2 separate regions of the Homo sapiens genome follow, and region 1 is linked to region 2. The links come from fine-mapping of genetic effects on plasma protein levels. A gene starts in region 2. The other region holds a variant in brackets. All regions are shown on one strand. Distances are from middle to middle. Region 1 overlaps SCFD1 (sec1 family domain containing 1). Region 2 holds the start of COCH (cochlin).

Region 1 (11,229 bases), 250 kb before region 2:
AAGTTCAAATAAGATTTGGGGCATACCTGCCATTCGTTGTATATGTTTAAACAAATGGAAGCTCCATTTGTTTTAATACTGTGTTTCTGATGACTATACTACATATTAAAATAACGTGTCAGTAAAACTGTACCAATACAAGAGAGCTTTTTGAAAAATAAATTTGCGTGGCCGTAAACTTGTATGCAGAAATTTTGTAGATCATTAAAATCTAATCGTTTGTATTTCTGCAGAAATAAACATAGTAAGATTTTACAGAATTACTAGGTAGTGCTAGATCTATTTTTTATCAAATTTTTACTGTCATTGAATTCTGCCTTATTTTCAGAGGAAGGTAAATCCTTGTATATATATTATAATGCAGAATTAGCTATTTCCCTCATGCCTATGGAGAATGTTTTGGGAGATAACTCACAGTCCTTAAATATTCTAGATACTAGAATATTTGGGTGGATGAGATAATAGTTGGCATTTATTGAGCATTTACTATTGTTAGGCATTGCATTAGGTGATTATGTATTATCTCCATTTTACAGGTGAGGAAAGTAAGATAGAGGTAAACTAACGTGCCTGTTTCTTGCTTTGCCTGCCTGAAAAATCTTTATTGGTCTCCTGAAAAATCTTTATTGATCTTTTGAAGGTCATCCCACAAGCCATCTCCTTTCTTCCTGGTTCACTGTCCCCTCTATCCATACCTTCAGTTCAATAGGTAGAATCAGTTGCCTCCTGCTCCGTGTTACTGTTGTTCTTCATTGAATGCGTCTTCGTTACAGGTTCTTGCACATCTTCCCAGCTTCTCAACATTGCAGGGTCCCATTAGTGTTCTCATCTAGCGCCTTAGCTTTCAGTATTATCTGTATGTTGATGATTCCCAGGTTTATATCCCTAGTCTGGCCGTCCCATCTGAACTCAGTCTACTCCATATCAGTTAATGGCAGTTCCGTCCTTTTAGTTGTTCAGGTCAAAAACCTTGAAGTTTTCTTGACTTGTCTCTTTCATGTCTCATGTAAGATCTTTCAGTAAATCTTGTCAGTTCTACTCTGAAAATACATCCAGGATCTGACTGTTGTCATTGCTATTCCGAGGTCCTGTCCACCATGAATTTCTGCAGTAACCTATTTGGTCTCTTTGCTTTTACAATCCTGTTCTCCTTCATTATTTTTCACACAGTACCCAAACTGATCATGCCATATGTTTGCTCAAAATCTTCCAGCATCTTCCCATTTCAACCATGATAAAAGCCAAAGTGATCTTACAGTGTTCTACAAGGCTTTATACGATCTGGTTTCCATGTAGCTTTTGGACCTCACTCCCTATTTCTCTTCCCTCTCCTTGAACCCACCAGGAATGCTCCCACCTTCGAGCCTTTGTATTTGTTTCTTCTTTGTGGAGTACTGTTTCAGAGATAATCTCCATGGCTCACTCCCTCACTTCCTTTAGGTCTTTACTCAAATGTTACCTTCTCAGGAGGCTTTCCCCAATTATTCTGTTTAAAATTACACCTCAACTCCATCTTCCCCTTTCCCAATCTTACCTTTCTTCAAAGCACTTACCATGATCTACATACCATATGTTTTACTTTTTTTTTATTTTATTTTTTTTATCCCCCAATTAGAATGAAAGCTACTTGAGGACAGGCGATTTTATTCACTGTTTTGTTCAGTTGCTAGATCCCCAATAACTACAGTGCCTGTGGTGAGCACTCATCAAACGTGTTGAATGAATGAATAGTGTGTATGTAAGTAATGACATTAACCAAGTCTAGGAATATGGATACAGGTTGAGTATCCCTTATCCAAAATGCTTGCGACCAGGAGTGTTTTTGATTTTGGAATATTTGCATTATTACTGGTTGAGCATCCCAAATTTCAAAATCCGAGCACCAGCTTAAAAAATTTTGATTTTGGAGCATTTCAGGTTTCAGATATTAAGACTTGGGATGCTCAACCTGTAGTATATTTAGAGCCAATAAGAAAAATGGTTTGTCATTTCAGATAAAGTCATGGTTTAAGCCTTGGGTAAACTCTGATAAAAGTAAAATTACGTTCTTGTAAACTCTGAACACAGGCCGTGTACTCCATTAACAAATCCTTTTTGTTATAGGTATAGGTATACCTATATAGGTATAGGTATATAGGCATATAGGTATACCTATATAGGTATAGGTATATAGGCATATAGGTATACCTATATAGGTATAGGTATATAGGTATATAGGTATATAGGTATATCAATAGGTATATTGATATAGGTAAAAGGTATATCAAAATACCTTTTAATAAGTTAGCCAAGGCTCAAAGTTGGAGAAAATCTCAGACTGGGCTGAGAAGGCGAATGTAGGATTATCTTATTTGCTGCTGCTGGCCTCTTTCAGTTAGCTAAGGCCTAACTGTGCAGCATACTAAACACCTGAGGCTCACATGGCAGCTCAGGCTTTCGTTCTTCCAAGTTGTCAGGCTTCAAGAGTGTGAACAGCTGTTCCCAGAAACAGGGTTTCCTCCCTCTTGGGCGTGAGTGCCAGGGTGGTGGTGTCTTTATTGCCTGGAGGTGGAGGAAGAGCTCTGCAAATGCACAGTGGGAGAGTTAATCCTGAAACCCCCTCCGTGCTTCCTGTGTTATTTCAGTTTTAAGTGTTAAACTGTTTTTTTGTTTATATTAAATATATTTAATATTATAAATACATTAAATAAAATACATTTTTATTTAATGTAAAACCTGTGGGCCTCTGAAGTAGGTAATATTGGTAATGTGTATTTTTGGCTGGACATTAGGTAATAACATTTTACCAAAAATTATGTCTGTAGGTGTATGGTAAATACACCTGATAGCAATAACTTAAGCGTGCCCTGAGAATGACCCTGTATTGCAGACACACCTGGATATGTGTTTCAAGCTAGGGAATCAAAATGGCCCACCTGGAGATTCATTCCTTGTCTGTGAGGAACATCTGAGCCCCCAGCCCATCCAGTGAAACATAGGCCATGCAGTGGATCAAGGCCCCGAGTTTTGGGTTGAATGAAGGTTGCCAGGTGGAGGTTGTTAGGGAAATGTTAAGTGAAAATGCTGTATAAACCACATTTTTGCTATATAAACCACTTTTTGCATGCAGTTATGGTTCTCCTGCCCAGCGCATTGCCACTGAGTATACAGTTCTCCTGTCCAGCCCACTGTCACTGGACTCTCCTATGTGTGTTGCCCCCATTAAAACCCTGTGTCTCATTTCCTGGCTCCGGGTCTCTTCTTAGGCCTCTCAAACATGGGTATCTTCCCCACTGGAGGCAATAAGGGTTCGGCACAACAGTATGTACACACACATAAGTATGCAAATGTATCACTGAAGTACAATCTGTTCAGTAATAGCAGTTTTAACAGCATTATACCTACCTCAGCAAGCAAGCATTTAATAGAAGTTTTTCTTGTGAGTGAATGAATATGCTGTAAGTTGATATTCAGGTGATTTTAGTATTACATAGTTCTCTCGTAGGACTTTGGAGTATAGGTTATTCTGTATTACTTAAAGCCTGATGCAAATGTTTTTAACAATCAACCAAGTGGATTTTAAGGCTGTCAATTTTATAAAAATTAAATCAAGAAATTACAACTAGTATACTCTCTTGAATATTTGGCCATCTCAGTTTCACGAAGAAGTATATTAAGGGATTTTCATTTTCTGTAACACTGTTACAGATGAGTGATAAATAACACAAAATACTGTAACAGACCCGTAACTGTGATTTTTGATGTTGTATATTTGCTTAGCTGGAATTATCAGTTATCTACTATATGGGAAAGTCTGTTTTCCCAAGGGACATAGAATTTTAAGCAACTTTTCGGTGAATCTGACAGGATAAATTGTTTGTAAAATATACTCTTACATAACTATAGACAGATCTGTATGAAGGTTTTGTATATGAACCAATTGAATATGCCATGGATAATTTTGTTTTTAGAAAGACTGATCCAGGCCGGGCGTGGTGGCTCACGCCTGTAATCCCAGCACTTTGGGAGGCCAAGGCGGGTGGATCACCTGAGGTCGGGAGTTCTAGACCAGCCTGACCAACACGGAGAAACCTCATCTCTACTAGAAATACAAAATTAGCCGGGCATGGCAGCGCATGCCTGTAATCCCAGCTACTCGGGAGGCTGAAGCAGAACTGCTTGAACCTGGGAGGCAGAGGTTGTGGTGAGCCGAGATCACGCCATTGCACTCCAGCCTGGGCAACAAGAGCGAAACTCTGTCTCAGAAAAAAAAAAAAAAAAAAAAAAGAAAGACTGATCTTTCTCACTAGGCCACTCACACTTAAAAAAAAAAACAGACAGACAGACTGATCCTTCTCACTAGACCACTCAGACTTAAAAAAAAAAAAAAAAAAGACTTACCTTAATCTATGCTTTCAGCCAGACAGTACACAGGCAACAGCATCAGTATATTGAGGCCATTGCAAGTTCTTCCTGAACATTTCCCGCGATTTCATCTGTGGACAGATGCTTATTGTGTTTTGGGAAATCTCCCAAATACATGTCAATTAGCTGTCGATGGAATAGTCTT[A/G]CAAGATCTGACCCCTAGTTCTACACATATAGTCATTTGGTTAATCAGTTTTACTAGAGTTGATTAGTTTATTTTGCTTTGGGGTAGTGAATGATGATGGAGGAAAAATAAAATCCTAAAAAACAATGACAATATTTGATAAAACTTTTTATTTTCAGTGGCTTTGAAGCGTATGTTGAATTTCAATGTGCCTCATATTAAAAACAGCACAGGAGAACCAGTATGGAAGGTAAGAGTTTATCTTAATGGGAACTGATTTCTGTTTTTCTCAGCCCTTATTGGTGGTAATTGGAGGGAATTTATTGTAATATGGAAGAAGTAACACATATTAGTTATCATGAATGTTTTATCCTTATTTAACATGATCTCTTAATATGAATTGTTTTGACAGACATTCTATGGAGTGAGACAAGTGATAAAATAGTAATTTTCATCTAGGGAGTCCAGTTGATCTCTTTGGTAGGATGTCACTGATAGGTCTTTTTCCTGGTTGATATTTTGTTCCTTAGCTTTTCAAGTCCAGACTTTGGATTTTATAAGCTTGCTCGGAGTTAGTCACATTCAGAGGGCCTGGATTATTTTAACAAACTCATGAGAAAATGATCTGTAAACTGTAATACCACTTTAATAATTTATGAGATATAAAACTTAATTGAACCAGAAAGCAATCTACAATCTTTTCCTTTGAGAAATACTGGAGAGCCTTTAAAAATTCCAATTCTTTAGGCTTCTTCATTTTAAACTTCATGCAGACTCTCTTTCTTCAGATGTTATAATACAGTTGATTGGGTTTAAACTTACTGGTTAACAGTCTCTTTATATTTCTCTCTTGCTAAAAATTAAGAACAAATCAACATGTTTAGAATTTAGGGTGTTTTGAAAACTCTCTTGAGTCTTTATAAGTCCTTTGGGTTAACTCTAAAAGTAGTTAAAGTTGTCTGTATTGATTTCATAGTTTAAGCTCCAGAGTATTCCCTAATTTTCTCCTTCTTGTTCCTTTGTGGGCATCTTCCTATTGCCTCTTGCATAAACTATACTTGCTTGTTTCTAAGACCAATATTGAGCTTTTGGTTGAAATAGTTTGAGAATTTCTTGGGTACAAATTTTTGTCAGATACTTTTCCTACCCATCACTTTTTATATCATTAAAATTAATAATACACATGTATTGAGATTAAAAGAGGGAAGATTTTTGAAAGATGCAACGTGAACCTTTTATAACTAGAGCAGAAAGATTTTTAGCCTCTTTAAAGGAAATCCTGGCATTTAAGAAAATGTGTTTTCATAACAACATGTTTCATTCTCTCATTAACAATTTCTTACTCCATAAATAATTATTGAGGTAGTTGTGAAAAATGCTTACCAGTTGAGGATCTCTTTTATTTGTCTTAACCGTGAAACTAATTTTGAGTTAAAAAGCCCATTTGGAGTTCTTACCACACCTCAAAGCTGTCTGTTTTAATACTTTGAGAATGTGAGGAAGTGTATTTGATAGACTAAGTCTATCAAATACTCTTTAGGGACTTAATTTTTTTTTTTTTTTTTTTGAGATGGAATCTCGCTTTGTCGCCAGGCTGGAATGTAGTGGCGCAATCTCAGCTCACTGCAGCCTCCGCCTCCCAAGTTCAAGTGATTCTCCTTCCTCAGCCTTCAGAGTAGCTGGGATTACAGGCACGTGCCACCACACCCAGCTAATTTTTGTATTTTTAGTAGAGAAAGGGTTTCACCATGTTGGCCAGGATGGTCTCTATCTCTTGACCTAGTGATCCGCCCACCTCGGCCTCCAAAAGTGCTGAGATTACAGGCGTGAGCCACTGTGCCACAGCCAGGGACTTAATTTTTTTTAATGAGTATCTTTTTAACCTGAGATGCTTAAAATACTAAATTTTTTATTGTGGTCCTGGAACTTGTTATATATTAGTTTTGAAAATGGCTAATTTTTACATCTCTGTTTTTAGAAAAGATATATGTGAACTGGAAAAAAAATAAGGGTATGAACGTGAATTGGCTTTAAGTTCAAAGTTTATGATAGCTTAAGGATTTTATAGTCTCTATTTTTTTAAAACCTAGAAAAAAGAATTTTATAAGAAGAAATTGATATAATTATTTATTTTAGCCTGAGTAGTAATGCTTTAAGAACGTATTACTGCCTGGATGGACATTTGGGTAAATAATGATGGAAAATATTAAATTGAGGCAAGGATAACAATTCAGTATATATGATGTATTAAAATTTACTTCAACATTGTCTTAATATAGGTTCACTATTGGTTGTTCACTGATAATGATGGAAAATGTTAAATTGAGGCAAGGATAACAATTCAGTATATATGATGTATTAAAATAAAATTTACTTCAACATTGTCTTAATATAGGTTCACTATTGGTTGTTCACTGATAATGATGACACATGGTTTTTTTTAATAGGTACTCATTTATGACAGATTTGGCCAAGATATAATCTCTCCTCTGCTATCTGTGAAGGAGCTAAGAGACATGGGAATCACTCTGCATCTGTGAGTTTTTACATATTTCTAATAGTGGTATTCATTTAAAGAACATTTATAGAGAAAAATAGTGTTAGGTTACAGTATTTATGTAGTATTGAACATTTTTTCCCTGTATCTTCTTTATTCAACCCCTTATTTCTGGGATTTAAAAAAATCCTCAGTCTGAGGCTTTATAATTTCAGAATTTAAATTTTCTGCCTTGTGGCTTTTCCTTAGATTTGGTTTACCCTCTATGTAAAGGAAAAGAACTAGTAATCTTAAGGTCTCTTCCAGCTCTAAAAGTGTTTTGTTCCTTTAATTTAAATACACAGATTCTCCTTGACCTACAATGGGGTTACATACTTATAAACCCATCATAAGTTGAAATTTTGTAAGTCAAAAAAATGCATTTAATACACCTAACCTACCAAACATCATAGCTTAGCCTCTCCTACCCTCAGCATGCTCAGAATACTTACATTGGCCTACAGTTGGGCAGAGTCAGATCTAACACATAGCCTCCTTTATAATAAAACCGGGCACGGTGGCTCACGCCTGTAATCCCAGTACTTTGGGAGGCCAAGGCGGGCAAATCACAAGGTCAGGAGTTCGAGACCAGCCTGGTCACGTGGTGAAACGCCATCTTCACTAAAAAAAATACAGAAAATTAGCCAGGCATGGTGGCAGGCACCTGTAATCCCAGCTACTTGAGGCTGAGGCAGGAGAATCACTTGAACCCGGGAGGCAGAGGTTGCAGTGAGCCGAGACTGTGCCACTGCACTCCAGCCTGGGCAAAAGAGCAAGACTCTGTCTCAAAATTTAAAAAAAATTAATTAATTAAAATAAAAATAAACTGTTGAATATCTCACGTAATTTATTGACTGCAGTGCTGAAAGTTGAAAACAGAATGTTTTTATAGGTGCTTAAAATATGATTTCTATTGAATATGCACTGCTTTTGCACCATCATAAAGTCAAAAAATCCTAAGTTGAACCATTGTAAGTCAGGGAGTGTCTATATTTTTTTAAAAAAAAGGAATATCTAATTAATCATTAATATGAAAAATTTAAGTGACTATGAAGTAATGACTGTTAATCACCATAGTGGGCTATCTGTGTTGTCTTAACTGTTAAGTTTGTGTGATTATATTGCTTCTGATATGTTTAATAAAAATAAAACAAATGCAGTACTTTATGGGCTTGCCTAGTAGAACATTTGGAGAAGGGGCCAGGCACAGTGGCTCATGCCAGTAATCCTAGCACTTCTGGAGGCCCGGGTGGGCGGATCACTTGAGGTCAGGAGTTCGAGACCAGCCTGGCCAACATGGTGAAACCCCGTCTCTACTAAAAGTACAAAAATTAGCTGGGCATGGTGGCGTACCCACCTGTAATCCTAGCTACTTGGGAGGCTGAGGAAGGACAATTGCTTGAACCCAGGAGGCAGAGGTTGTAGTGAACCGAGATCGTGACACTACACTCTGGCCTGGGCAGCAGAGCAAGATTCTGTTGAAAAAAAAAAAAAAAAAAAAAAAAAGAACGTTTGGAGAAGGACTGTGTTCATGGATAGATACTAATACTTCTGTATACTAAAAGAGTCCAATTTTATGGTGTTCTAAGCTATTTGCATTTTGTTCTATTTATGATGTTATAACCAATTTTTATGATATCATATATTGAATTGAAATGTACTCTTACTGGGAATATAGTTTTAGATTTTCGATAAGTAACTTGACAGAATCTGGTTTAATCAGCTCAAATTCTTCAGTTGTATAATGAGCATTTGTTAATAGACTGTTATAGTTTGTCAATTCCAAATGTCCTTTTTTACATTTCTGAAATTAGGATCTATCTTATCACTGATGATATGTCATAACTGGCAGCATTTTTATTTCTCAGTAGTATATAAAATATATTTTAAAAATTATGTTTTAAAATTGTTACCACCTTGGGTTTCATGAAATACGGTATTTGATGAGTTTTCCTTTCATTTTTATGTCAGACTGAAATAAGCAGGTTTGCTTTGATAATGTGTTAATTTTTATGGACTGAAGTAAAGTTTAACTTCATGCTATCCTTGGAAATTGTGGTTTATTAATAAACATTGAGTGCCATTGTCTCTGTACTAAGTGTTTAACTCCTTTATTTACTAATGGAAGGACTGAAGTTTAGAAGGCTTAAGTGATTGTCTCACATTTGTACAACCAGTTAATAACAGAGCCATGGCCACATTGCTTGACCACTAATTCTGTGCTGTTTATCTACTGAACTGTAATGGCTCAGTAACAGTAACTAACAGAAGTGAGGCCTTACTCAGTACTTCATTCAGGGGTAATAGGATAGTCTACCAGTTTGAGAGTCTCGTAATCTCTGCCTAACTTGCTACTTGCCACCAGAGCATGGAAATATTACACAGCTACCATGGTGAACTCTTGTGTACTTTGCCTCCAACCATTCTCCTCTATTTGCTGGAGAATACTGTATCAGTTACTTTATACCCTGCAAGCTGGTTTAGGCTAATTTGTAGGAAACAGTAATTACAAGTTTCCACAGTATGAAATGGTGGTTGTAGCCCATTAGACAGTTGGACAAGCAGTGTGAAAAAGACCACAACCTATGGCAGCCATCACATTATCATTCTTGATATCAGTGGCAACAGTTATTAAACACAGACTCACTGGCAGCATGTGCCTCTTTCCTCTCTCTCCTTGATTATAGAAGGATGACTAGAGAGAGGTGAATATTCCTCATATAAGCATGGTTTGATGTTGGGATATTTGTATGGAAATTGTTCCTAAATTGTAAAAGGAGAAAACTGTAAAATGACTTAATCTATAAGATGCTTACATTCTCTTATGAAACAATAAATAGACAAAAATAGATTGTCTTTAATTTTTAAGGAAACATTTATATACCTTTCATTTAAAAAATATATTTGATTTCATGTTTGGTTAAATTTTTTTATAGCTTCTAAAGAATTGCTTCTAAAATTTTTTTCATTGCGTCCCCTAGCTTTCTGATTTTCCCCTCAGAGAGCCACACTTTCCTCACATTCACCCTTCCCCTCTGACCACCACATTTCTATGAAAAGTGGGAATAAGATTGATTCTGAATATGTTTTAGTTCTCATTCAAGGAGAGTGTTGGTAGAAAAGAATGTCTGACCATAAGCAGTGCTAAAAGTGTGAGCAGAATAGAACAAATGAAGACTAACAAGAAATTAGGGTCTTACTAATGCTAATAAATAATAACAACACTGACATGGGAGAAAGATAGGTTAACTCACTGATTAATTGCAACAAGAGCTTTTAGAGCACTGGTTACTGTCCTTGAGCTAGTGAACTCCCATTTTGAGGAATATTGTTTTAAATAAGTGAATAAAAAAATAAGTTTTAGTTCCTTATGTCTTCTAGGCTTTTACACTCTGATCGAGATCCTATTCCAGATGTTCCTGCAGTATACTTTGTAATGCCAACTGAAGAAAATATTGACAGAATGTGCCAGGTAATATGGGTTCTTATTTTCTGGACTCCTGAATTTGGAAATGGATTTTTTTTTCAAGAAAAATTCCTAGATGTCCAGGGTGAAAAATCAGAAATTCCTATGCCTACTTTCTCACTCTGATTTTTGAGACTATCTTTGAATTCCAAATAGCCTGAAAGACTTAAAACTTTTGGCTGAAGAAGTATTATACAGTAGTCCTCTCATGTCCACAGTTTCACTTTCCACAGTTTCAGTTATCCACAGTTAACCAGGTACTGAATATATTACAGTATTTTGAGAGACCACATTCATATAACTTTCATTACAGAATATATTTTCTGTAATATATTTCATTACAGAATATATTTTATAATTGCTCTATTTTATTTCTAGCTATTGTTGCTAATCATTTACCGTGCCCAATTTATAAATTATAAATTAAGTTTTATCATAAATATGTATGTATAGGAAAAAACATATACGGTTCAGTACTACCTGGTTTCAGGCATCCACTGGAGTCTTGGAAAATAACCCCTGCAAATAAGGGCAACCACTGTACTGGTAAAGTCTGAGTCTGGCTTTAACAAACAGAAAGCCTAGGTATATTGCCTTTCTAACTTATATAGGGTTTTCCTTTTCTAAAATAAGGGTGAGATTAGGAAGTCCACACTGGTGCAGAAGTACTATAAGGTAATCAAAGACCCAGGCTCCTTC
Region 2 (11,519 bases):
GGCTGAGGTTGGAGGACTGCTCGAGCCCAGAAGGTCGAGGCTGCATTGAGCTGAGATTGTACCACTGTTCTCCACCTGGGCGACAGATGAGACTCTATCTCAACAAACAAACAAAAAACAGTAATAAGTCATGTCAATAGTATATACCCTTGACATGGTGTGACAAGAATGTCATTTTACCTCTGTGGTCTTTCTCCTAAAAACAATAACCCTGGTCTAATAATGAGAAAAACATCAGGCAAATCCCAATTGAAGAACATTCTACGAAACAGCAGACCAGTACTCCACAAAACTGTGAAGGTCATCAAAAACAAGGAAAATCTGAGAAAGTGTCACAGCTAAGAGGAGCCTAATGAGACACGATGACTGAATATAATATGGTATCCTGGATGAGATTCTGGAACAGAGAAAAGATATTAGGTGAAAAATAAGGAAATCGGGCAGGCACAGTGCCTCACGCCTATAATCCCAGCATTTTAGGAGGCCGAGGTAGGCGGATTACCTGAGGTCAGGAGTGCGAGACCAGCGTGGCCAACATGGTGAAACCCTGTCTTTACTAAAAATACAAAAAAAAAAAAAAAAATAGTTGGGTGTGGTGGTGCATGCCTGTAATCCCAGCTATTCAGGAGGCTGAGGCAGGAGAATTGCTTGAACCTGAGAGGTGGAGGTTGCATTGAGCCAAGATCGCACCACTGCACTCCAGCCTGGGTGACAGAGCAAGACTCCATCTCAAAAAAAAAAAAAGAAAAAAAAAAGGAAATCTGAATAAAATATGGACTTCACTTAATGATAATGTATCAGTATTGGTTTGTTAATTGTGACAACTGTACAATACTAGTATAAGATGTTAATAATGGGGAACTAGGTTTGGAAACTGTACTATCTTATTAATTTTTCTGTAAACATAAAACTTCTAAAATAAAAATCTTTAAAAAATCAATATAAGGTAGCAAATGTCAAGACAGAATGAGATTGATTCATTCATCTAACAAGTATTTCTTGAGTACATATAGTGTGCTAGACAGTTTTGTTGGGAGTAGGCGTGCAGCAATGAACAAAAGGTAGAAAGATCCTTGCCTCTGATGAGTTTACATGAGATAAATGCCAAGCCTTGCAGAACTGATTTATGTTTCCCATCACAGCTTCCTCTCTTAGGAAGGAAGTCCTAGTGGCACTCCAGTGAAAATGTGACCTCATTACTTCTTGTTAAATAAGGGACAAACATGAGCCAGGCCATAGTTTAGCAGTGAGAGGTGAATAAAAAGAGACTTTGAGTAAGAAAGGATAAGTCCTGGGACAGCTGGGAGCCAGCTGGCACAGCCAGTGTTTCCTAATGCCTCCCAAACCCTGGAAGACAGCACAGCCCCCAGAGCCTATATATACCCAGGGAGCACTTGCCAGTCACAGAATGTGACCAGAGGAAAGTCTCTTCCAATCGCTGGTCTAATCCCCTTCACTTTATAGGAGAGGAAACTGAGATCTCATAGTCACAGGGATATCTCTGAATCAACTTTTTAATTTTCACTCCTCTGAGGCTGTAGACATTTATTCTCCTGCTAGACATCATCAAAAATGGAAAGGCTAGATAAATATACTTGCTTAGCATAAGATGTGAACAACAGAAAAGAATCAGAAAAACTAGATATAGAATAAACATCAATGTGGGTTTAATAATATAGGTGATAAGAGTTCCCAAGCTGCTTCTGCTCTATAATCTATCATAGAAACTTAAAGGATACTGCAGGATAAACATACACTTCCTAAAACTGAACAAACTCACTTTAAGGCAGGGGTTCCCAACTCCCCAACCGCAGGTGGGTACCAGTCTGTGGCCTGTTGGCAACTGGGCAGCACAGCAGGAGGTGAGCAGTGAATGGGCGAGTGAGCATTACTGCCTCCTGTCAGATCAGCAGTGGCATTAGATTCTCACAGGAGCTCGAGCCCTGTTGTAAACTGCACATGCGAGGGATCTAGGTTGCACATTCTTTATGAGAATCTAATGCCTGATAATCTGAAGTGGAACAGTTTCATCTCAAAACCATCCGCCCCCCACCAACCAACCCCGTGGAAAAATTATCATCCATGGAACCAGTTCCTGGTGCCAAAAAGGTTGGGGACAGCTGCTTTGAGGCCACCATAATCGAAATAAAACCGTGTTGCTATGCATTACATTGGCTAAGTAAAAGTTTACCGGGGAGCTTAAATGGTATAGAGGATAGAACAGGACTGGATACTCCTTTAAAAGGTAAAATAAAGTAAAAAAAGACCAACAACAAAAATATGAAAACTTCAGGGGCAGATTCATACCTAGGTAACAACGGAACAGAGACAGAGCCTATATAAACTAAGAGTTTTATCTGTGTAAGCACAAGCCAAATCCCATCAGGTAACTATGCCATCCTTGAGAAACTCTTTTAGGGCCATCAGCAGCATCCTGAAGCCTGACAATGCCACCCAGGTATCAGTGTTAGAGGCAGCTTATTTCCCTAACAATGCCAGCGCATTCTGCACAAAGTCAGAAATGTGACTGTGCAGCATTCCCAGGGAAAATTACTTTTGAAATTGAGTTTTCAATCTTTTTGTTAGGGATTGTTTTTAAACAACCATCAGGCCAGAAAATGCTTCCATTTTTTATCAGGGGAATGCAGTAGGCATATTAAAGTTGGATTTTAACGAAAAGATAATGAAAGAAGAATGAAAGATTAGCAGAATTAGCTTAACCTCTAACACTGAGCACCTGGACTGCACATTAGAATCACCTGGAGAGCTTTTAAAAATTCTAATGCCCTGGCCCCAGCCCAGACCAATTATATTAAAATCTCTGGGGTGGGACCCAGGCATGAGTATTTTTAAAGCTCTCCAGGTAGTTCCAACGTGCAGCCCAGACAGGAATCCACTGCTCTACACGGAGTTCATCTAAATTTTGAATATCAAATACTTCCCACTAAAGTAGGATAAAATCAGGCGCAGTGGCTCATGCCTATAATCCCCACATTTGGGGAGGCCCAGGCGGGAGGATCACGTGAGGTGAGGAGTTTGAAATCAGCCTGGGCAAATAATGAGACTACCTCTCTACAAAAAGTAAAAAATGAGCCAGTCATAGTGGTGTGTACCTGTAGACCCAGCTACTCAGGAGGGTGAGGTGGGAGGATCTCTTGAACATAGGAGTTTGAGGCCGCAGTGAGCTTTGATTGTGCCACTACACTCCAGCCTGGATGACAGAGTGAGAATAAGTCTCTAATAATAGTAATTAATAACAATATAATAAGATTAAATTAAATTAAAAATTAACAAATAATGAGGCCGGGCCTCACGCCTGTAATCCCAGCACTTTGGGAGGCCAAGGCAGGTGGATCACCTGAGGTCAGGAGTTGGAGACCAGCCTTGCCAACATAGTGAAACCCCATCTCTACTAAAAATACAAAATTAGCCAGTTGTGGTGGCACGTGCCTGTAATCCCAGCTACTCAGGAGGAGGCTGAGGCACGAGAATTGCTTGAACCTGGGAGGCAGAGGTAGGAGTGAGCCGAGATAGCGCCATTGCACCCCAGCCTGGGAGACAAGAGCAAAACTCCATCTCAAATAAAATAAAATAAAATAAAATATTTAAAAAAATAATAAAGCAGGATTAACCAGGCATCCTAGGAGTACGATTACCCTAAAATATCACCCAACTGAATACAAAACTCTGTCATTTTAACAATTTGTCTTTTTAAGTCAAATATACCTAGATTTGACTCTCTTCAGATATTTCCAAAGCAGAGGCAATTACCTCTTAAATTCAGATATTTTTCTTTAATATACTTATGGTGAGCATGAACTACAAACTAGCTAAGAATGAGAGTCTAAACCCCACTCTTCCACTCTCCTTGGTTGGCCTTACCAAAAAGAAAAAAATAGTAAAGACAGAGTAACTTCTCTTAAATGTTTCAAAACAAAATAATTAAGATGAATCTCAGTAAACAACCATGAAATTCAGTGAGGTATTTCCTTTATTTTTTAATGGTTACAGACTCAGGGTCTGTCATGGAAATAGCTGCATAGTTTTGACTCTGCCAAATCACTCACTGAAATTACATCACAGGAGGGCTGCCAGTGCCCTGTGGGGGCTCTGAATAGCATCTACCCCTTTGGCCATTTGGGACCTGCCTGCTGAGCTGTGAAGTGGCAGGTTTTTTCCAGCGTACAGACTCTTCCTAATTATATAGCATCATGACAATTTGTCCAGCCTAATTAGGGGAGGTTATCCAACCCTGATTGAGGACACTCAATAAACAATAATGGAAAAGACAGCTTTAATTGTCCTGAGGCTTGAAATTTCTCCCATGGAAAATATCAGGGGCAGTGGCTAGATTACTGGATTTCTAAGAAAAGGGTAATTCTCTATACCAGGGAAGGGAGTAAATCTTGAAAGCAGCCATGAAAATAAACATCAAAAACCTCCCAGCCCTCAAATGTTATTTGGTCTCTTTCCCTCCAGAAGACATTCAGGTAGTAAAGGGAATGAAATCAACACTCCTTAGTTGCCTGATACAAATACTAAGTCATTCCAATCAGGAAGATAGTTGTAATTAAGACTACTACACTAGTTGACTTCCAGGTGATGGTGGTGTATTTGTTTCTCAGTATAAAATGGCATGGGAATACTTTTCAACAATAAAAAGAAAGGAAGTACTGTTCTATAATGCCTCATGGATGAACCTCAAAAACATTCTGTGCAGTGAAGGAAGCCGCACAATGTATAATCCCATCTATAAGAAACGACCACTAAGAAAAATCTATAGAGACAGGAAATAGGTTAGTGATTGCCTAGGACTAGGAGTGGGAGAAGAGACTGACTGACAATGGCGAGGAGATCATTTTGGGGAGGATGAACCTGTTCTGAAATTGGCTTGTGGTGATGGTTGTACAGCTCTGAAAATTTACTAAACATCATTGAACTGTACACTCAAAACGGATGGATTTTATGGCATGTAAATTGTAACTAAATAAGGCTATTTGAAAAAGTTTATATTGTACCAGAAAGGTTAGCGTCTGGGCCTGGGTCTGGTTCTTCCGCTGCCATGCAGGTCGCCTGTCACTAACACTCCTCAAGAATTCTGCTCCTTCTCCATTTCCATTTGTAAAACGTTAGCAGGATGGTGCGGGGAGAAGGAGAACACATTATCAAATCTGAGATTCTGTGCAGTCACAAGACACCAAGTCTGGGAATTTCGAAAGGCAATCAGGCATAAATTCTTCCTGAGGTGAGAAAGAAGCAAAGGTACCGGCTGCTGGGGTCAGGGCTGTCTCACACGCGTGGCTCTAGGCAGGAGCACAAATTGAACCACTGGGGAAAGTAGGACTCCAGCAGAAACGAAGGCGCAAGGCCGAATCCCTAAGGTCCAACGAGCTAGCAGTCAGTTGACAGGGTTTCTAACAAAAACGCGGCATGCGTTTACCAAACCTAGGGTGGTTTTATTTCAGAAGTAGGAACTCTTTCCACGAGAGCACCAAGTTGAGAAGTTCGGTTCTCAGGCCGCGTGGACCTGACAGCTCTCAGAAGCTCCAGGCCTCGCTGGGTGGGGCGGGTAGCGGCCGCCGCTGCCTCAGCAGCCCTGGTCCCGGCAGAGCAGGGCTGGCGAGGCCGCTGCTGCCGCCGTCGGGGCCGCCGGCCCTCCACACTCGTTGAGACGCCGGCACGGGGACCTTCGTGCCCCTCTAGGGACTGGCGCCGCGTCCAGGTGGCCGAGCCTGCGCTGCTGGAGGAGGCGCCTCCGCGCCGGCCTCACCCCGGGGCCGGCAGGGGGCGAAGGCGGAGCTGGAAGTCGCCGCCGGGCCCCGGGGGACCGGCTCCCGCGCTTCCTCCCGCGCCCCCCGCACAGTGCTCATGCGCACGGCCCAGCCTTTATAGCGGCCGCGGGGGCCTTGCCTTCCGCACTCGGGCGCAGCCGGGTGGATCTCGAGCAGGTGCGGAGCCCCGGGCGGCGGGCGCGGGTGCGAGGGATCCCTGACGCCTCTGTCCCTGTTTCTTTGTCGCTCCCAGCCTGTCTGTCGTCGTTTTGGCGCCCCCGCCTCCCCGCGGTGCGGGGTTGCACACCGATCCTGGGCTTCGCTCGATTTGCCGCCGAGGCGCCTCCCAGACCTAGAGGGGCGCTGGCCTGGAGCAGCGGGTCGTCTGTGTCCTCTCTCCTCTGCGCCGCGCCCGGGGATCCGAAGGGTGCGGGGCTCTGAGGAGGTGACGCGCGGGGCCTCCCGCACCCTGGCCTTGCCCGCATTCTCCCTCTCTCCCAGGTGTGAGCAGCCTATCAGTCACCATGTCCGCAGCCTGGATCCCGGCTCTCGGCCTCGGTGGGTGCGCGCCCCTCACGACCCCGGCCCCTTGCTCCGCTGGGTGGAGGCTGGAGCCAGCCCTCACGCTTCTCTCTTCGCAGGTGTGTGTCTGCTGCTGCTGCCGGGGCCCGCGGGCAGCGAGGGAGCCGGTGAGTGGGGGAGCTGGGGTGCGTCCAGGCGGTCGCAGGGGCTGAGCACCAGCGGGTACAAGCGGGACTCAGATCCAGCCCCTTGGGCTTCAGCCCTACCGCCTGAGGAGGAAGGCGCGAAGGTTGAGCCGCCGCGTGGCGCGCCCGCGTTAACCCCTGCAGCCGATCTGCTCCTGCTCACCTGTTTCTCCCATGGTAGGGGGCCCCTGGGGTCCAGTGGGGGGACGTTCTCCAAGAGCACTAGGAAGAAGGCCTCCTCCAGGCCCACCCACAGCCCCAGACCCCGGGCCCGCTGAGCGCCGGCAGCAGGAGGTCGAGGAAGGAGGACTCCTTGAGCCTCACCGAGGAGCGCACCAGTCCTGGGCTCTGCTGCGTTTGGGGGTGGAGGAGAAGCCGCCCAGACCCGACTTCAGGTTGCCGTAGCCGAGAGAGAGGGAGGCGAACGTCGCTGTCCCACCTTGTTTGACTCGCTAGCTATGTTTCTAGGTGTAACCCCTATAATCAGAAGCACTCGCGGTCTCACTCTACACGCTAGAGAGTTTAAAAAGTTTGTACCACGTGTAGAGGTCCGGGTATGGGTGTGTGGTTTGGTGTATTTTCCAGTGTAAAAGGCAACGCTTTCCTAAGAGCTACCGTTTGTTTTCCTTGAAAGTAGGAATGAGGGTTAAGTATCCCTCATGGCTGTATTTCTCCCGCTCTACTTAACAAAAGTCAGTGTTCGCAACTAAAGGCGGTCGGTCTTGGCACCGGATTCCGATGCCGCCCCCATCTCAGCGGAAAATGGGAGGAAGGATTAAGGCTGTTTGATGATAGGTATGAGGCTGTTTAGGGGTAAGGATTTTAACCTCTCAGCTCTCTAGACTGCTTCAGAGCTAAGAAATGGGCATTGCGCCTGCATCCTTCCTTCTCTTCCATGGAATGTAAGGTACCTGTCACCACAAAGGGCACAGAGGAGGGTGCTTGTCACAGGCAAGGTACTCAGTTGGACAGTATGGCCAGAAAGTATTCCTCTGCCTTGGAAAAAAAAGGTTTTTAAAATTAATATATGTTTTAAAAAGGTTTGGATAACTACAACTTCCCATGTTTGAAAAATAGCATTTAATAACATTAATCTCAATTTAGTATCGACAGTAAATTCACAAATTAACATGTTGTATTATGTTATCTTGTTACTTGTTGCCAAGAGCTTGTCTCTTCCTAGCATCATTTATAGTAAAAACTGATTCTTTGTTAGGTTGACAGTGTAAAACTTGAGAATATTAACAGTGCTTTCTAAAAATGCATCCGCTGCTTGATAAATCTCACTGGACAGATCTGGAGCAGAAATAATCAGGTTCAATTAAGATAAAAATGCTGTATTCTGAAGGGATTCACTTTTCTGTTTTCTGTCCTTCGGGAGTTGTAGAATGTTGTTTGGGCAAATTAACCCCACGGCTTTAATTTTCTCATCTATAAAATGAACAATCAAGTTAGATAACTTTCTGTGAATCTAAGCATCTTTTTGTTGGCTTCCTTAATGTGTGAGTTTAAGGATCTGCATTTGTAGGCTAACTAGGATAAATGGTCCTATGAAGGAAAGGATGGCTTTGATTTGTGCACATGTCTATGAAAATGTTCCACAAAGGCTCAATCCAGATTTACTATCTTTACCTCAAGCAACTGTGTACATAGCGTCATCAAAGTTGAGATTTAAAAATTTTTTTTTTTCTTCTGGAGACAAGATCTTATTCTGTAACCCAGGATGGAGTGCAGTGATGCAATCATAGCTCATTGCAAGCTTGAACTCCCGGGCTCAAGCAATCCTCCCACCTCAGCCTCTCCAGTGGCGGAGAGTACAGGCATGCACCACCACGTGTGGCCATTTAAAAAAAATTTTTTTTTTTTAGAAGAGATGAGGTCTTGCTATGTTGTCCAGACTGGTCTTGACCTCCTGGACTCAAGCAAATCCTCTTGTCTTGGCCTGCTAAAGTGCTGGGATTATAGGCATGAGTCACCACGCCCAGCCAAGATTTTTTATATTTCTATAATTAATATTAAATGACTTTTATTTTCTAGTTCAGATATAGTTCCAATTATGTATTTCCAACCTGGTTAAGAACTGAGAAGCCAGGCACAGTGGCACACCTGTAATCCCAGCTACTAGGGAGTTGGAGGTGGATCACTTGAGCTCGGGAATTTGAGCCTAGCTTGGGCAACTTGGCGAGTCCCCATTTCAAAAACAAAAACGAAATAAAAACCCAGAACTTTCACATTAGAGTTTTATAGTGGCTGGGGACTATATTAAATTGGAAAACAACCTTGTGGCTTGCCAAAATCTGGAATGGTATGGAAGGGTATATAAGTCAATAGTCATAACTAGAAGTGTAGAAATTAGGGAAGTAAAACTTAAATCTCACACTGTAGTCTCCCCACCACTATGCCCCAAGAAGTCCTAAGAATGCTTACAATATTATCTCCTTTTTCTTCAGCTCCCATTGCTATCACATGTTTTACCAGAGGCTTGGACATCAGGAAAGAGAAAGCAGATGTCCTCTGCCCAGGGGGCTGCCCTCTTGAGGAATTCTCTGTGTATGGGAACATAGTATATGCTTCTGTATCGAGCATATGTGGGGCTGCTGTCCACAGGTAAGCCCAAACACACCAGGGTGGGAGAGAAATGCAGACGTGATTATTTCCTTTCCTGCTTTACCCATCTGGATCCCTTTCCTCCCTGCATTCTTTCTTTTGTTGCCATTGTGGCCACAGAAAATGGATATATTTTCACGGTTCTCCTGGATATACTTGAAACACCAAATACACATGGAAAGCTTTCTGACAAAAGGCAAATAGCATTACCTCTTGATGGCTAGATTGCTATGATTCCAAAACATTCCTAATCATGTGATATATTACTGAGTTATTACTATGTGCCACCTATTGTTTTAACTTCCACCACAACTCTACAAGGTAGGTAGAATTTTACTCCAGTTACAGATGAAGAAACTGAACTCAGAGAGTTGTCAAGTATCTTGCCCAAGGTGACTATTGTTAGCAAGTGCCATGCTATCCTGTAGTAGAATAGCCAGTATAATACTTCTAAAAAAATTCAGTCCAAAGGCATGTAGCTAAAGTGAGTATCTTAGGAAAATTGTTTGGTGCTCTGAATTTCTAAGTTGTGGGTAATGGGATATTACAAATGTGTTCTTATCAACACTTAAGAAGTTCAACAGCACAAAACCATTTTTTTCCAGGCAAATTTTGTTCTTGTGTAAGCAAGTTTTTAAAAGGCTAGCAGCAGCTGGGAGTGGTGGCTCACACCTGTAATCCCACCACTTTGGGAGGCTGAGGCGGATGGACCACTTGAGGTCAGGAGTTCGAGACCTAGCCAACATGGTGAAACCCTGTCTCTACTAAAAATACAAAAATTAGCCAGGTATGGTGGTGCATGCCTGTAATCCCAGCTACTTGGGAGGCTGAGGCAGGAGAATCACTTGAATCCTGGAGGTGGAGGTTGCAGTGAGCCGAGATCGCGCCACTGCACTCCATCCTGGGCTACAGAGCGAGACGCCATCAAATAAATAAATAAATAAAGCAGAATCTTTAGATGACTTCCCTGATGAGCTATTTTCTTGATTAATCAAAGCAATAGATACAACATGGCACTATAAGTCAGTGGGATGCCCTGAAAAAGTGTGGATAGCATCTCAGCTGCTATTCTTGTGTTACAGGGGAGTAATCAGCAACTCAGGGGGACCTGTACGAGTCTATAGCCTACCTGGTCGAGAAAACTATTCCTCAGTAGATGCCAATGGCATCCAGTCTCAAATGCTTTCTAGATGGTCTGCTTCTTTCACAGTAACTAGTAGGTATAATTATTGTTCTCATTCTGTAATATTCTCCCACCCCCCAAACGTTTTCTGCTTTTTTTAGCTCAGCCTCTTTAACCTTGATGGAAAAACCTGTGATCAAGACTAAAGCTGACCTATAGAGGTAAACTGTAGGTTAGACTGAGGGGTCAAGTACCCACTGAAGCCAAATTTGGGTGAATAGAAGACAATCTTACTGACAGATGATGGCAATAGAAACTTGAATTATTTGCAGTCAGAATGCCCGGACACTTACCAAGGAACTGAAAAACTACTAAATACATTTTTGATGATCCTTTGAAGATATAATGGATAAGCATTTTGGTTCTCTGAAACTAGCATGCAGCAGGATGTTTGTAACTACAATCACCATTACCCTATTACATTTGTCATTGTAGAGAGCTCTAAATTAGATTCATAATACTTTGGTAAAGAAGGAAAAGGAAAAAAATAAGCTTATTTTTATTTTAACAGAAGGCAAAAGTAGTACACAGGAGGCCACAGGACAAGCAGTGTCCACAGCACATCCACCAACAGGTATGAACTATGAAACCTATCTCCTAGTTGCCCGGCACAGCATTTGGAAGTTATGAATAAACGTGTTGTTGGTAGAAGCTTTTCTTAAAGAAATTTGATATTAAAGAGAAACAAAGCAAATACCTTAAGTTTACTGGTATATTACATATGGAAACATTCATTATGTGTATATTTTAAAGACAGGGTCTCACTCTGTTGCTCAGGCTGGAGTACAGTGGTGCAATCATAGCTCACTGCAGCCTTAACCTCCTAGGCTCAAGCAATCTTCTCACCTTGGCCTCCTGAGTAGGTGGTACTACAGGCACATGCCACCACACCCAGCCAATTTTTTTGATTTTTAATTTTTTTTATTTTTATTTTTTTAGACAGGTCTAGCTATGATGCCCAGGCTGGTTTTGAACTCCTGACCTCAGGCAGTCCTCCCACTTCAGCCTCCCAAAGTTCAGGGATTACAGGCATGAGCCACTGCACCCAGCCTAATAATTCTCTAAAAGTCCTATTTTCTCCCAGATTTGATAAACCACGCCTAAGAACTGGTCAAAGTACCATGAACTTCTAGTTCCATTTGCTTCATTAAATTCCTTTAATTACTGCACTGTCATGTGACTAAAAGGAATGTGTGTCTATTGTAAGAAATAGCCAGGGATCCCCTTTTGTATGACGATGGCAGTTTTAAA

The links. PIP is the chance, under the fine-mapping model, that this variant and not a neighbour inherited with it causes the effect. Sun 2018 read protein levels with aptamers (SomaScan).
Region 1: its variant is fine-mapped to the plasma level of the COCH protein (Sun 2018, PIP 0.95).

Annotation. Positions count from the first base shown.
Region 1 is chr14:30,623,502-30,634,730 of GRCh38, forward strand. SCFD1 (sec1 family domain containing 1) reads left to right here. Exons shown (of 25, transcript NM_016106.4): 2 at 4,708-4,778; 3 at 6,976-7,064; 4 at 10,446-10,536. Among named protein-coding and RNA genes, the nearest start is that of SCFD1, 6.8 kb to the left of the region's middle. The variant A/G (reference allele first, on the strand shown) is at 4,550.
Region 2 is chr14:30,868,644-30,880,162 of GRCh38, forward strand. It overlaps COCH (cochlin), which reads left to right and starts at 5,916. Exons shown (of 12, transcript NM_004086.3): 1 at 5,916-5,948; 2 at 6,273-6,329; 3 at 6,413-6,460; 4 at 8,929-9,085; 5 at 10,168-10,301; 6 at 10,780-10,842. The coding sequence starts at 6,296. It overlaps COCH-AS1 (COCH antisense RNA 1), which reads right to left. Exons shown (of 5, transcript NR_038356.1): 5 at 7,536-7,909. RefSeq lists a silencer at 5,478-5,997.